Regions from separate parts of the Homo sapiens genome. Here region 1 is linked to region 2. The links come from fine-mapping of genetic effects on gene expression. A gene starts in region 2. The other region holds a variant in brackets. All regions are shown on one strand. Distances are between the middles of the regions.

Evidence for each region.
Region 1: its variant is fine-mapped to the expression of GNAZ in whole blood (TOPMed, PIP 0.95).

Annotation. Positions count from the first base shown.
Region 1 is chr22:23,103,677-23,106,176 of GRCh38, forward strand. All of the region lies in intron 4 of RSPH14 (radial spoke head 14 homolog), which reads right to left. The region is part of intron 2 of GNAZ (G protein subunit alpha z); the gene reads left to right. Among named protein-coding and RNA genes, the nearest start is that of GNAZ, 34 kb to the left of the region's middle. The variant C/G (reference allele first, on the strand shown) is at 1,484.
Region 2 is chr22:23,069,026-23,071,525 of GRCh38, forward strand. GNAZ (G protein subunit alpha z) reads left to right here and starts at 1,494. Exons shown (of 3, transcript NM_002073.4): 1 at 1,494-1,545. All of the region lies in intron 4 of RSPH14 (radial spoke head 14 homolog), which reads right to left. RefSeq lists silencers at 1,169-1,308, 1,449-1,588 and an enhancer at 2,195-2,500.

The DNA.
Region 1 (2,500 bases), 35 kb after region 2:
TGTTCTCCATCTGAGAACAAGCCCTGTGGCATCCTTGCAGGAAGCAGTCCTTGTTCACCCAGTATGTGTGGGCCCTGGGCCTGACAAACTCAGTCTAGGGACAGAGGCAGTCCTATCCCTTCCTCCCTCAGGTCAGCTGGGGATGGCATCAAGCAGGCCCTGGAGGACCTGTGTAGCCAGGGCTGGCCTCAGGCTGGCTTCCCCAGTGCCTACAAATGCTGGCCGCATGCTCTCTGTGACTGGCCCTGAGCCTGCCCTAGGAAACAGTTTTCTAGGTGCAGAGAAGCCAGGAACAGGTGCCTCCTCTGTCCCAAAGACCAACATTTGCAGGAGAGACGGGGGCCTAGACGTTGGGAGCAGGCCTGCACAGATTGGGATGAACGTGGGGGTGGTGATCTGATCTGGACCTTGCAGAATCCAGTCAAGGCTGTGGGGGAGCAGTGGGGACAGTCAACAAAGGCAGGACTGAGGGGGCTGTCGGGGGCCATGGAGAGCACAGAGCTATGCACAGTGCCCTGCAGCGGGATGACGGAGGACCAGGCGGTGTAAGGTCTAAGCAGGCAGGGCAAGGTCGCAGGCACAGTGTCCAGTCCCCAGTGTGGCCCAGGGTGGGTGTCGCTGCCTGAGCGCCCTGTGATGACGGAGCCAGGGTTCAGCCCCAGGACTGTGTCCCTCCCAGTTTATACACCTCCTGCTCTGCCTCGTGATCAGGCTGGATGCTCACAATGATACCCTGTCTGAACTGTTCCAAGAGCTTCAGGGCAGAGCTGCTTCCCACCCCACATCCCCTCAACCTGCATCGGCTAGGCTTGCCCAGGCCAGTGGGTAATTAATTTCCTGAGCGCATTAGCTCTGCTCAGTACACACACATGAGAACAGCTCTGGGTTTTAAGACACAGATTACTATTGTTTTAAGGGATTTGTATAATCCAGTAACTGAAAAACAATTTTCCACTATCTAGAACAGACTCCAAGGTGGAGGCTAAGAGTGCTGGGGGCCTTGCTGACTTGGGGATCCCTAGTAACCAGTGTAGATGGGGGGATCTGCCACTCAGGGGAGTCCTGTGACTGGCCATGAACAAGACAAGCAGTGAGGACAGGATGCAGCAGCAAGGCTCTGTGCTGACCGGATGCATAGCCCTCTTCACCTGAGGCCCCACTGGCTCAGTCTAGTTTCTGGAGGGATTGGAATGACAGTCAGCTAGGGTGCATGGCCCTGGGCATCTCAGGGGGGACACCCAGTGTTGGCCAGGGCAGAGTGAAAGGTGTTTCTTCTCTCTGCATGTGGCTCCCGTCTGGATAGTGGACAAGCTTAGGCCAGCCCAGGAGCCTGGCTGCAGCTCACCCTAATCCCTGCTTCATCACACCTCGTGGTGGACATGTCCTCAGCTCAGGTACTTTCTCTAATTTCATTAATAATGAAACCAGAGTCGACTGGGGGCCCTGGGCCTTGTATCCTAAGGTTCCCAGCCCAGGCCGGCCA[C/G]GGCCACAGCCCCACACACCTTTTCCTGGCCTGTGGTGACCAGGGGAGAAGCACAGCAGCATCCTGACCAAGGGGGCCCAGAGCCTCGAAGGCAACTTGGCTCAGCTGGAGGAGTGACTATGGGCAAGGTCCTGCCCCACAGGGCCACCCAGCTCAAGCAGTAACAACCCAAATATGTTTTTTTAAAGGATGAATATTTTTGAAAACCATCTTTTTGGCCATAGGCAGAGGTTCCCCACTGGGATCTCTCCCCACTACCCCCAGTTTCTCATGTCCCTCCCAGGAAAGAGCCTGAGCCTGCTGCAGAGGGGTTCACAAGCCCTTGAGCCTACAGGTGTGGGTCCGAGGCTGCAGTGCCAGCGGCTAGGAGTGCAGAGTGCACCCACCTTGCTGAACAAAGCAAAGGCAAACCAGGCAAGGGTGTCGGCCTTGGGTTCCTGGGGATCCTCTGGAGCTGAAACTAGGAGGGGTTTCTCACACTGTGCTTTCTTCGCATGGTGATGGCGTGCAAGCTCCTGGCCAGGCCTGTGTCTGTGTTGACAGCTTCCAATCTACAACACACCTGTATCATGCTGTTTGTTAATTTCCCTTCAGCGACTGACACTGGCTGGTGGGGAGCAGGGGTGCAGGTTACTTAAAAGCAGCAAGATTTAACACAAAAACAAATAGGAGACAGTTCTCAGCTGAAACAGAAGTGGACTGGGGCTTTGGAAGAGGCCAGTCCTCCCAGTTGGGCAGGAGAGCTTATGGGGTCAAGGTGAGAGCAGGTGGGACCCAGGTGCTGAGGGTGCCCACGGCCTCCCTTTCTGGGTCTGGGTGTGAAGCCAGGGAGCAGGACACAGGAGCTCCAGGCCCTTTCGGAGCAAATGCTCCCACCATCTTGGAATTTTCTGTCCCAGGACTGGGAGTCTTTGAGCATTGTTAAGGCACCACCTCCAGTCACGTGACTCCCGCCACATATCACACTTACCCTGGGGCTCTGCCTCCTCAGCAACTTTGACCAACACCCTTGGGAAT
Region 2 (2,500 bases):
GGCAGCACCCTCACAGGTGGCCCATGACCCTGCAGGTACGTAACGCAATGGTCTCCATCTCACAGAAGAGGAAACATTCCTAGGGAGGTTATGGGATGATGCTGAGATGCCACAGTGTCCAGCTGGCAAAGCCAGGCACATGCCCCTGCCCCTCCACCACAGAGCTATGATGGAGAGACCGCTCCATGGACCTCTGCCATGGTCAGGTCCAGGGCTGCTGCTCAAAGAATGGCATGATCCACACCTTACAAAGGTGTGAGGTGATAAGGAACGCGTTAGCTGGGAAGGCATTTGCACTTTGTCAGGGATGCTCTAGGATACACAAAGCTTCAGATTTACAAAGATGGAGAAGAGAGACAGGAGCATTCATGTCTTGGCCCTCTGGCTTGAGAGTCTTTTAAGCATGGAACTGAGGGACTCCTGGCCCTGAGGTCCACAGATAGGCTTTGAAATTGAAAACAGAATTTTGCAGCCTGGGTTCAGCTGCGTTTTGCTGAGGGTCTGATGCTTTCCACCAGCTTCCCAAAAGCGCCAATCAGTGGCCTTAACTGAACTGGCTCTCTCACGCTTGTCTGGGCTGGGGGCCAGCTCCTCGGTCCTTCTCCCTTCCTTCCCTCCCAAGGCCACCCTTCCGTGTGCCAGGATTGCCAGGGACGCCAAAGAGCCCCTAGACACTGGGCGGTGGCGGCGGGGGGCGGCGGCAGAGATGACTAATGCTCCCTCCCATCGCTGCACAAACCTCACCGGTGTAAATCGTTAGGGTTTGCATAGGCCTTTCACACGTTCTGAAGGATTGGTGAGACAATCCAGGAAAGCAGGTGCCACTAGCCCCACTTTGCAAACAGAAAGGCTGAGAGAGGTCAGTCGGTTGCCCAAGGACGTAGAGCTCACAAGAGGCCGAACTGGGTTTGAACCCGAGTGGAGAGAAGGCGAGCCGGGACTGGCTGCAGTAAAGAGGGCCAGGACCATGGCTGGGCTCAGGCTTGGTTTCCCGGGCTGCCAGAGGTGGCCCCTGGGGCTCGGCTACCAGGCCTCAGCGCAGCGGAGTCGGTGGAACGCCGGCGCGGGGAGCTCTTGCGGGACTGCGGCGCGCGCGGAGCTGCGACCCCGCCCCTGTCCGTCCCCATTGGGCTACTGGCCCGTCCGTCAGCTGCCTGTGCCCAATGGACAGAGGGCCGGCGCTCGTGGCGGGGCGGAGGTGCCCGGCGCGTGGTGCCCGGCGGGCGCGCGGCACCCCCCCGCCCGCGGTTGGCCTGGCAACGGGCTGCGCTCGCGGCTCCGCCCCCTGCCGGCGGCGGCGCGGCGCGGGGCGGGCGGACCCGCGGACTGGCGGCGGGCGGCGGGCGGCGGGCGGCGCGGGAGGGCGGGCGGAGGGAACCAGGCCGGCCGGAGCGTGTGCGCCGCCCGCGGTCCGGTCACGTCCCCGCGTGGGCGCCGCTGCCCGCGTCGTACGGAACGAGGGCGCCGCGGCCCCGTGCTCGCCGCCCCGCCCCGCCCCGCCCTGCCCGGAGCAGCTCGGCAGATGCTCTGTGCTGCGGCCCGGAGGTGAGTGAGCCGACCCGCGGCCGGCCGCGCGCCGCTGAGCCTCAGGGGTCGGGGGCACGGCCGGGGCATCCACCTTGCCCCCACTTGGGACTCTTCCCAGGCCTTTGTGCCCCGGATCCGCCAGGACGCAGCGTCAGGGATGCCCCTCAGGGGTGGGGGACACCAAGGGCGGGGACGCCTGCGAGGTGGGCAGGGGGCGGCCTCTGGTCGGGCAGGTGCTGGGGGAGGGATGCGCCGCCAAGCCGATGACCCCGCGGGAGGGGGCGGTTGAGGACCCGGGAGGGTGGACAGAGGGCGCCGGGGATGCCGCGCGGGGCCGCCGGGCGCCCCCAAGCAGCGGCTGATGCGGAGCCCGGGCGGGCCAGGCGAGCTGCGGGAGCGGCGCTGAGGCGGGTCTCCCTAGGGGGAGGATCAGGGAGGGGCGGCCGGAGCCGATGCAGGGCCTTGCCTGAAACCGAGGAGAGGGCCCCAGAGGCCTGGGCCCGAGGACCTGGGCCCGCAGACGGACAGCTAGCAGTTCTCGGTCACTGCTCTTGCAGCGAGCAGGTTCCTCACAGGCATTTAGAGGAAGAGATGAGTATCGACCTGCTGCGATTGTAATACGTTCCCGGCTCAATATTTTTTCCCTTAAAAGGCGGTGGGGGTGTTTGGGGGAGGGGAGTGAGGGCCTCAGGGCTGGCGCTCCGTATCCTGCGGGCGATCCGAGGGGGCTCTGCCTTTAGGGCGGTGCTGAGCCTTCCTGGGTGATGATGGCAGGATTCGGCCTAGGCCGAGAATGGGGGCTCCTGTTAACTGAGACAAGAGGATGATGCCAAGCGAGACCAGCGTTCCGCGTAGTCCGTGTTGGGGTGGAGGGACCCGCCTGGTAGAGAGGTCTGTCTTGCTTGGGGAGACAGCTGAGCCCCTGACCGGCTCCTTTCTGCCCAAGTGATTTCCCTGCCCTGGGGATTGAGCT